Homo sapiens: one gene and its partners. The protein of the gene in region 2 purifies or fractionates together with the protein of the main gene of each other region. This does not show direct contact. Each region holds a gene or a part of one and is shown on either strand. Other genes may lie near its edges.

The links.
Region 1: the proteins of CRHR1 (region 2) and GNAO1 purify together in Homo sapiens (affinity purification with western blotting, with the first as the bait; one study listed by BioGRID). This does not show direct contact.
Region 3: the proteins of CRHR1 (region 2) and GNAQ purify together in Homo sapiens (affinity purification with western blotting, with the first as the bait; one study listed by BioGRID). This does not show direct contact.

The regions. Positions count from the first base shown.
Region 1 is NC_000016.10:56,348,489-56,351,988, reverse strand, and holds part of GNAO1 (guanine nucleotide-binding protein G(o) subunit alpha), read right to left. Parts: intron 606-3,500; coding exon 452-605; intron 1-451. UniProt on the Homo sapiens protein: Guanine nucleotide-binding proteins (G proteins) function as transducers downstream of G protein-coupled receptors (GPCRs) in numerous signaling cascades.
Region 2 is NC_000017.11:45,815,200-45,818,925, reverse strand, and holds part of CRHR1 (corticotropin-releasing factor receptor 1 isoform 2 precursor), read right to left. Parts: intron 2,464-3,726; coding exon 2,344-2,463; intron 1-2,343. Other genes in the region: LINC02210-CRHR1 (CRHR1-IT1-CRHR1 protein), read right to left, coding at 2,344-2,367.
Region 3 is NC_000009.12:77,790,759-77,794,484, reverse strand, and holds part of GNAQ (guanine nucleotide-binding protein G(q) subunit alpha), read left to right. Parts: coding exon 1-22; intron 23-3,726.

The DNA of each region.
Region 1 (3,500 bases), on a different chromosome or scaffold from region 2:
GGTGGGGCCAAGAGGCAGTCCAGGCCCTGTTCACAGGCCACGTGTCCACTTTTCGGTTTCATGCAAAGGTGCTGTGGGGCTCTGGGCAGGGGTGAGGGGAGGCCACTGCTGAGATTACAGGAGGCTGTCCTGAGACCTCTTCTAGAGGGTGACCAGGAGGAAGGGGGAAGCCTGTGATCCTGTCCTGCCCCCTGCTCCCCACCACTCCTGAGTCACTTGGTCCTAACACATATATCTTAGGAGGGGCCATTTCCACCACGCTGAGGGCTGTGTCCTGGGAAGCCCAAACCTGGTGGCACAGCACTGTTTTTCTTTTGCGCCCCACCAGTCTCCTGCAATGGGTCCCGCTCGCCAGCTAGCCCCAGCAGTGCTGGCCGAGCAGCCTGTTCTCTGAGCCATGGGTCCCTGTCAGGGGCAGGCTTCCCCCTGCACAGGACTGCCTGGCACCCACCTGTGTATTCAGGAAAGCAGATGGTCAAAGGTGACTTCTTGATCTTCTCGCCAAAGAGATCTTTCTTGTTGAGGAAGAGAATGATGGAGGTATCGATGAAGAACTTGTTGTTACAGATGGAGTCGAAGAGCATGAGAGACTCGTGCATGCGGTTCTGCGGCCGCAGGAAGGGAGGAGAGAGGACAGACAGCGGGAGGGAGACACAGAGACAGGGAAAGAGAAGGAGAGAATTAGGCTTGACAGAGAGGGACTGGGCTACTCGGCAGCTCCTCCGAGAGGCTGCCAGATGGAACCTGAGTCAGTTACACCTCACAGCACATCTCATTCCCTGCTTCCGGAGAACCCGTCATGTCGGGGCCAGAGGCAGAGACTGGACTGGACACCAGCCATGGCTCTCTGGGGAGGCTGAGGACAGGGTGACCCGGGCTCTCCCCACTGCAGAGTTCCCAGCTATGTGAGGGTCTCCCAGCACACGTGTGTGTGGCTGTGTGCATGTGCCTGTGTGTGTGTGCATGCACCTGTTATGTGTGCCTGTGTGTGTTCGTGTGCATGTGTGCCTATGTGTGTGCACCTGTGTGTGCATGCCTGTGTGCATCCATGTGCTTGAGTGTGTGTGCGTGCCTGTGTGTGTGCCTGTGTGTGTGGGCGTTGGGGGAGTCTGGACCGGAGCCGGAGAGCTGGGCTTTGGCCCTTCCTGCCTAGACCTCTCCTCCTGGGCCCATCCTGGGTAGGGGGATGTTCTCTGGGAGTGGTGAGAGACTCCGGGCCCTTCCTATGGTCTCAGGGGAAGGCATGCCAGGTCCTGCCAGCATCCTGGGTGCCACCACTCAGGGGAGAGGCTCCTGGCAGGGCCACCTCCAGGAGCACCTGGGGGACTGGCCACACCTCCTCTGGCTGGGTCCTACTCAGCTGCATCTGACACTGCATGATGTTCTAAGCAAGGCAGATGTGGAGGGCTGCCCTGCACACAGGAGCCTGTTTAGCAAATGGATGAACGTGATGGGCGCCCCACAGATGCCGAACGGGGGCAGCCTCTTGCCCTGGGCAAAAACTCTGCTTTGGGGCGCTGAGCTCATTCACTTGGGCAGAGTCTGTCTCTCAGCAGCACAGAGGGCATCTTTCTCTGTGAACGAATCCATTTCTGCACAGGGAGTGGGAGGAAGGGACAGTTTCCCTTATTTTCCCCAAGAACCCTGTCCTAGCCCTGGGAACTTGCTCACTGTAAACCCAGCTCTCTGGATCTAAAGCCCAGAGGTGAACCAGGCTAAACTCTACCTCTGAAATAAGAAGAGTGACACAAGTAACAAGAAAAAGAAGACAGCTGGTGTAGATGCCACTGGGCATCTACGGGGAGATGACCTCCTCCCCCAGGGGTGAGCACACCGTGGGTGCTGAGGAATTGCTGGTCCCACTGCCACACCGCCCCCCTCTGAGCAGAAGGAGGGCAATGAAGATGAAGTGACCACACCAGTCACTGAGGCCCACACTGTGCCAGCGCTCTCCCTGCCCATGTCACTTAACCTCATCTGGCCTGAGGGGACACCGCGGTGACACAGCTGGGCCAGATCCAGAACTTATGCAATGGGTCTCTCCAGTCCATATCAGCAGGCTGTGGGGCTTTCGAGGAATCGATACTAACAGCAGCATGGCGGGCTCCGTGCGTCTTACGGCCAGTCCTCCCTTCAGTATCTCCCCCGTGCCTACATCATTCTACCATGACCTGTAGAGGCGGCCAGCCCCAGCCCCTGGTTCCTATTAGCTGAAGTTGGTCGGCGGAGGGCAGCGTTCTCAGCTGCCTCTCAGGGGCACCTGGACAGCTGGCATGGCGTTATTCCCCACCCCCCAGGAGCTGTAGTACACGGCACTGCCCTTTCATTCTGCTAAACAGATTCAGTAAACTCATATGATCTCATCACTCTCCTATCCTCAATCAGTAAATTTCATTCTGATTCCCCAGGAGCATTTCCCTGTCATCTGTGTGATCCCTCCGGGGAGGAGCAGGTCTCGCTTGCCCTGAGCCACCTCACTGGGATCTGTTCAGAAAAGGGCAGCCGGAGGCTTCTGGGAGGCCCAGTGAACCTGTGTCCAGGGCCTCGGGCTGTCCACACTCAAGCTCATTGAGCCACATTATGAGGCCAGAGTGGTGAGGCTCTGAGACCCCAAGGATTCCACAGGAACATGCTCCCCACTCCACAGAGCCACCTTGGCCTGCAGCTGCCTAACAGAGAGCTGGAAACCCACAGCCAGAGCCAAGCTCCCTCCTCCACTGCACATCTTCCCAGGCACTGCCAGGAGCAGCCACTAGAGTGACCTGAGCTGGGAGTGGGGACTGTGCCCCCTTGGCCACTGAGCTTAGGTGTGGAGGAGAAATCAAGTCCGGCTCATTTAGGCTCCACAGTTCCACTGGTTAAGGCTGAGCCCCCGCCACAGCCCCTACATCTCAGGGCCACAGAGCACGACTCACACCACACTCGCTCCTCCAGTCAGTACTGCCTGGCATCTGTGTGCAGGGCTCTCTGCTGGGCTGCCCCGAGGATGTAAGAATGACCACATCAGGCTCCTGCTCTCCGAGAGCTCAGAGTCCAGCTGGAGAAAGATGATCACAGTCTGTGGTCCCAGGAGTGGCAGTGCAGGGGAGGACTTGGGGAGCAGAGGACAGGCATAACCAAACCTGGTTTTATGGGGAGAGGGCCTTGGAGGGAGCCCCAAAAGGCGGCTGATCCTGGAGACTCGGGGAGGGCAGTGAGGAGGGGAGATCCTGCAGGGCAGGGGAGGCGCCGGCACTGAGACCCCTGCCAGCCCCCCAGGCCTGACTGCCCTCCCTCGGCACGCTGCCTGGAACCCATTGCCAAGGAGCTGAGAGCACAGCTCATCCTTACAAGCTCCCCAGAGGAAGCAGACGCCGGGGTACATTCAAAGAAGAGATACCACCATTTGAGAAAAGAGAAAGAAGTCAGAGATCATAGATGGCTGACAGCCAACCCCCTAGACCTCCACCTGCCCCAGGCTGCAGTGGAGGCCCAGGAGCAGCAGGAAGCAGTGCCAGCGC
Region 2 (3,726 bases):
GATGCGACCTCCTTGTCTTTAATTGCTGAGCTGAGCAGTCCTCCCAAAGAATCACGGGAAAATAGATATTTTTGGAAATGCTTCCCATCCCTTTGAAGATCAGATGCAGCAGGAGGGAGGGCATTAGGGAGAAGGCCTAGAAGTCCTGGCAGCAACTCATCAGTAAATGGATTAATTAGTGCTTAATGATGAGGTGCAGCTCTGGGTACCCACTTGTGACTGACTGCACGGGCGTGCTCCACCTCATCTGGCGCTGGAGGCACCTGGAAAGGGGTCTTCCAGCCCTGCCCTCACAGACTGACCCCATGTCGAGAGGCCATCACCCCAGCTCCTTTCCTGGGATCACAGAGGGAAGTGCGGGGGAGCCTAGAGAGCACCACACTCAATCCTCCCACCCATTCTGCAGGTGTAGAAACTGAGGCCCACAGAAGGTCTGTGCCAAGGGCTACTTAACCAGCTGCAGATGCAGCTGGAATGAGAACTTAGGACTCCTGACTGCCACTTCAGGCAGGGCCAGCAAGTGAAGTGTGTGCCCAGGCACTGAGGGCTGAAAATGTTTATCTGGAGCATGTCAAGTAACCCTTTGCAACGGGAGCAGAGGGAACTCATGGGGGGTGGCCAGGGCTGGCTGCAAAAGGTGACAGGGCCATGACCACAGACAGCCTGGCCGGCCCCACCCAGCAGCCTGAACACGGAGGCCACACAAGAGTGGGTTCCAAGTGAAGGAGTGACCAACTCAGATCTGAAACCTGAGGCTGGGCGGTGGCGCTGGGGAGTGGGGGCAGGTAGGCCCAGACACGAGGATCACTCTGGAAGTGGACATGACAGGAACTGGTGCCTCCTCCTGGAAGCTCCTCTGATGTGCAGATGCTGCCTCCTTCCTAGGGGCTCCAGAAGGACTCAGCCCCCAGCATCGTGAGAGTTATCGTCCCTGGGCTGTGACCCTGCCTCCAGGCTCTGCGACCTCCGATAGGTTATTAGCCTCTCTGTGCCTCAATTTCCTTATTACAAAATGGGCCTGACTATATTGGGGGCTGGCCAACTGTGCACCCCTTGGACTGACCTGGCCAAGAGGCCCTTCTTCCTTTCTGCACTTCCTCCCCTTGGCCCCCAAGCCCCTCCCAGTGTGTCTTCTCCCTCTCCCGAGTCCCTCCCATGGCCAGGACATGGTACAGACACACGAGGCTGCTAGATCTGGCTGCCCCAGCCTCCTGCCCTGCCCTGGCCTCCCAAGTCACTCCCTGGGGAGTCACTTTCTGGCTGGGTCTTCCTACTCCTCTGCTGTAGCCCCCAACCTTAACACCCCAAATCCATCTGGTAGAGGAAAGAGGGGCAGGAGAAGGAATCTGGGAGTTTTGAGCTGGAAGACATCTTAGAAGCCAAGCCATCCAGCCCTCTCCATCCTCAGATGAGGGGCTGAGGGCCAGATGAGGGGCAACAATGTGCTGGGAGGTCACACAGTGAGTCTTGGAGTAAACTACATGGTGTCTGGGCTCACCCCTGTGCCCTCTTGGGACTCTGAGTTCAAGACCACAAGGACCCAAGGGTGCACACAGGAGGCCCCAATTGCAGGGATCAGGCCCCCAGCCTCCCCTCAGGTAGGTTAGGGCTCCTGGCCCACAGCTGTTGCTCTCTTGATAAGCAGGGACCTGACTCATTGACAGGGGAGAGCAAATTAATTCTGAGAGTGGCAGGCGGAATAGCAGGGAGCTGCAAAGCCCGGCTCTGGGGGTTTCGGGCCTCCGGGGAGCCAGGTGTTTACATGAGGATCAAGTATCCGACGGACCCTGGGTCAACCCCGTCCTGCCCCACTCCACCTACAAATCCAGGATGCAAGTTGAGCCTGTGCCTGTGCATCTGAAACTCTGGGTCCCCTGCCTCCTGGCTGGAGGGCCCGGGGTAGGCCTCAGAACCTCTCGACTCAAGGTTCTTATCCACACAGCTGGGGCTCTGATGATTCCTGCCCTGCTTCATGGTATTACAGTAGGCTCAAACAGACTAACCTGAAGTTTAATGGCAGAAGAAAGTGCCAGACAGACGTGGATGCAAATTCCAGCTTCACCCCTTACCAGCTGCCAATGGGGCAAGTTCCCTAACCTCCCTGAGCCCCAGGGGCCTTAGTTATAGGAGGCGTGATAGTGTCTTGCAAGGGTATTGTGAGAATCACGAGTAATGAGCACAGGGCACCCAGGAGAATACAGCGCTGACCTTTGGAAAACAGGGGCGATCCCCACAAGAGGTATTACTGTTATTGTCATCGTCATTCTTCCTTCCCCCACCTCCAAGCTCTCCCCATCCTGTCCCACCTCCCAGCAGATGGTCCACCCTCCACTTCTTCCTTACTTGTGGTATTGTAGCGGACACCATAGAAAAAGGCAGGGCAGGGCCGAACCACTAGCTGCCCCGCAGGGCTGCGGGGCCAGCAGGTGCCAATGAGGTCCACGGATGCGTTGCACTGCAGTCCTGGGGGCAGAGACGGCTGGTAAGGCACAGCAAGATATCCGGCCAAGGCCCCAGGCAGGCAGAGGACATTCCAGAGTTCTGCCCACCTCCCCACTCGTTCCCACTCACACCAGCTAGGGACAGGATGACAACAATGACCAGTGCAGAAATGAGCTCATCCTATGCAAAGAAGACACAAGGGGAAGAAATCTGAATCTGATGCTATGGTACTAGGGAGCCAGCATGGGTTCCAGAGCAGAGGAGGAAGAGAGATGGCTGGAGGTGGTGTTAAAAGCTAAGGTCCTGGCATTTAGAGGAAGCCTGGGCATGCTTCTGGTCCCCTGCTCTGTAGCCTAAGGACACTTCTCTTGGTCCCTCGCATGGTGACAGCCTGGAGCTCTGAGACATCACAGGAACACCCTGGAACAGACCCATCCAATCATTGACCTAGCCCCTCACGTCTCTGCAATCAAACCACATCTACCCTGGCCCTGCAGGGAAGAATCAGCTAAATGAAGTTGGCCCTCCTTCCGGCTGGCCTGTTCCTTCTTCCGGCTGGCCTGTTAACCACACTTACTGACCATACGTCACGTGTACTTTGTTCTGTGCAGGGCCCTAGGACAGGACTGATGGAGAAGTGAGCTATGGAGAGGAAAGGGAGGGAGACACCATCTGGGGGAGTGGAAAGGACACACTGAACTGGGAGTCTGGGCCCACTGCTTCAGAATGGGCTGTGCCACTAATTTGCTGTGAGATCATAGGCAAGTCACTTGCCCTCTCTGGGCCTTAGTGTCTTGTCTTCATCTATAATAAAATCAAGTGGTTGAACCAGATCAGAAATTCTTAATCTCAGCCCACTGGAAACTTCAACAGTTCACAGAGACCCTGAATGTAATGAAAATATTGGTGTATACATGCATTTTAATGGGGAAATGGGCCCACGGCTTTCATTAGATTCTCAAAGGGGTCTGTGACTCAAAGAGATATAAACATCTGAACTAGAAAGAAGATGTCAAAGTCCCCTTCCAAATATTTGCTTTTTGGAGGAGAGAGAGAGAGCACGCGAGAGAGAGAGGATGTTGGGGCAGAGTTGAGGCCCAGTGACACTTCAGGAGGGGAGGGTGGATATGGCCTCCAAAGGGTGGGGGCTGGCACAGTCCTGGCACCCCCCTGAGGCTGCCCCTTCTTTCTCTGCCTTTTAGTGCCTCCCTCTGAGTGAGGCTGGCACACCAGTCCTTTTGAGCCCCAGTGTCCCCAGGTTAATAACCTAGAATTGGCACAAGA
Region 3 (3,726 bases), on a different chromosome or scaffold from region 2:
TCTCGTGGAGTCAGACAATGAGGTAAGTGTTCTTTAGACAGGCAATGGATTATCATTTTATTATCTGATACAAGTAAATGATAGAAAGTAGGGTGTGGGGAATGGAGTGAACTTACTTCTTTGCTTTCTTGAAATTTGATTTTAGGACTTTTAAAATAACCAAAAATAATCCTGTGGTAAGCTCTTCTGTCAGATGTGTGAGCAGGTCTTTGTGTTCAAATCTAATTAGAGCCTATTTGATACTTTTTAACACTATGCAGAGGTTCTGAAAATGAAAATAACATGGAAATCCTAGGCTAATCATCAGATCATTTTATAGTCTTCCTCCTACAGGATAGAACTGGGAGTGTTGGAGTGAGTCATCCTGTTTTGTTTTGTTTTCATTTTGTTTAAATCATTGTTTGTGTGATGGGTGTGTCCCAAAGAGTACTCAAAATCTCTCTTGGCAAATGTGAATGACTTCGCAGCTGGGCTCTAAATCAGTTCATTATGAACCATGGAATATCTTGGTGATGCGGCCTTTCTGCTCTTATAGAATTCTCTAGGCTGTTGCATAATTTTGTCTCTATTAAGCAGTGAGCAGTTGAAGAAGTATCCTTAATATGCCTGTCTGGAGAACAATTTCAGTATTGTTATCTCCTCCCTGTTACAGGGAAACTTAATAGGTGTAAATGTGGATTTTCAGGATGGTAAAGACCTGACGATGAATCGATTATGGAATATATTAAGGGATGTAGAAATCTGTACTTCTGAGCTGTAGTTGTGTGCATGTGTATGTGTGTGTTGGGGGAACGGGGAAGACACCATTGATATCCTGTTAGAGGCAGAGATTGCAGTGTGGTAGGTTAATAATAAATATTAAATATCCCAATAATAGGGTAGCAAAAAAGAAGGAAGTGAGAGATCCCCGTTTGCTGACTAAAATAGGATCTAGCATATTATGCTTTTAATACAGTACATTTTTTAGGTACACAAGAATTCCTGACTGGTTCTTTTAAATATTTTTCTGCCAGTATTAATATCTCCATTAAAATACATATCCAAGCTCCTATAGTATTTCTTTTATGTATAGGATTGATAAAGTTTCCGTGAACCAATGTCTATATAGAACCGAGAGTCACCTGTTCATGCATTTCGGAATCATTCCTGAGTTACAAGTATATTGGCTTTGGAGTTAACCAAATAACTTCTGTTTAAGAATGAGGCTTGTTTATCAATCAGTTGCCCCCAATAACTCTAAAGCAAAGTGCCTAAAAGCATGCTACAATATATGACAGTAAGTTACCAAGATACAAGGCAGTTACTGTCAGAATTTTAGCTATGATATCTTTATCTGTATATCTTTATGTCTGTGCTTGTTTGTTACATAATCCCTGGATGTAGTATTTTAAACATACTGCATATTTTGGGAGCAGATCTATTCTAACACTTCTGATTTTTTTGAATGTTGTGTCAAGACAAAAAAATATTTTGAGGGCTTCCCTACTATATGCTGGGTACCAGAGTATCTAAAAAGACACAAAAATGGGGAAAAAAATCAACTCTGCCCTAGAAGACCTTATAAACAAGATATGCTTTTGGTCAGAATAAGCCATAGGGGGAAAGGTAAGCCTTTGTTATGTAGGTTGTCATTTCTCTTCTTTAATTTGCCATCCAGTAAAATAAAATTTGCATTTATCAATTACACAAGAGATGTAAGAAGCAAATGTGAATTTATTTCTGATGTTTACATTATAGCTAGAGGAGGACAAGTGTTTATCAATACACATTTTCCACAAGATAAATGCATTATATATATATGAAGAAGTATATGTCATGATGTAATACTTATCAATTTACCACTTCAAAATTATCAAAATAGAAAAGAAAGTAGAATCCTTTGGCAACTCATCAGCTAATTCAGTTCAACCGAATTGAATCTGGTTCTTCAGTTATCTGAACATTACAGATCATTTATTCCATTTTTCCTCAGACATAGCTAATAGTGACTAGATTTTTATATAAAAGTATATTATGTTAATTAGAATAAAATGGCATCGTTTTTATTATCATGTGTCATAATTAAAGTTCCCACAGTAACTTGACATTCAATGTACAGGTACTAAGAACGTCTAAAAATATTGTCCCAGTTCCTTTGATTCCTGTGGTGATGTCTTATGCTACTTTTAAATAATTACAAATTAAAATAATAAAGCTATCATTTTTTCATTAGGACTCCCTAATCACTTGTGAATCTTTTGAAAGTCTAGGTAATTCTATAAGATGAAAGTCAACTTGTACGGTGTTCCTTTCTGAGACCTCTAGTCAAGCCTGATGATAGTATGGGATCATGAGAAAAGTGCTGTTCATTAATTCCTTCATCCATATTAGCCACAGCTATCACTGTCTGTAATTAGGAAGTACTGTCAAAAAAATATTTTTTAATGTTGGGATGTAGTCTCATTACCCCTTTTTTTCCCCAGTTGTACTAATGTATGATAATGTCATTGCCTCTCAGCTTCCTTAATCATTAAGAAAATTCAGAACTACAGAATTCTAGTTTCCCCAGATTTTTTGGTTTTGGTGAGACAAAACTGAAATAAACTCCAGAAACATTTTGTTCTTGGTTTAGAAGTCTGATGTTCATAACTTTAATCCAAAGCAGACTTTGTTGTGCCTCCCTCCCTTGGTATATATTTGTGAGAAAAACCTAGGAATGGATTCTGACAGCTTTTCTTTCTATCCCAGGAAACTGTGGAAAATGCATTGCAGACCACAGACAAAAGCAGCTAAGGGAAGCATTTTAGATTATTGCTTTTGCTTTTTAATATTTCTAAAACCTTATAAATCTTCATAATTTTATGTAGGTCTGCTTTTGTCTGCCTAGATTCTCAGCCTTTCTATTGTTTGGGGAATGAATTTCTTTTTTCCTTCAAAGAAGGAAATACATTATCAAATAGTGGCTAGAATACCCAGGGTGGTAGAGCTGTGTTGATTTGCGTATTCCCTTTACTGTCTTATTGATGTGTGTATTCCCTTTGCTGTCTTATTTTCCCTGTGATAACACACCAGCATGGAATCCACTATTCTGCTGTAATCCTTTCATGGGTATGTTATTTCAGTGCTCCTGAAAGCCCAAAGCACACAATAAGACATGCTTATAACATATTTTAGTTTATCAGTGTGTATCCAAACACTGCCTTTTAATCTTTATTTTTCTGATTTTCTGTTTCATGAATATCTGAGCACTACTACAAAGATGTTTTCTCAGACATTGTCTCAATGACTGTCTTCCAGGCTAAGCTCTTTATAGAATCTCAAAGACTGAGACCTTTTTCTCCTCCATGTCCTCTTTGAATGTGAGCTTTGAATTTATTAATCATCTTGAAATGGTCATGAGGAATTATGTTATCATTTTATTAAAACGTCAAGATAGTTCTCCCTACCCTAGGCCCTCCTTGATCAAGGTGGATTCCCTGACCTTGGTTTCCATAAACATGTATTCATCCTTCAAACCTGATTTTTGAAGTTGCTCAATTGATAAAAGGAAAGCATAGACGTTTATAATACCTTAGCACTTTATACCCAAAACTTGCTGAAGCTGCTACTCATCAGAATCTACCAGCTGACCTCACCGTGGCGGGGACAGATCAGGTTTGCTGGTGTGCGTCATAACGATGAGGTTACAGGAATGAAGAGATGAAGGCCTGTGGCCAAGGTCACTGAAGGCCAGGTCCCCTGCCCTTC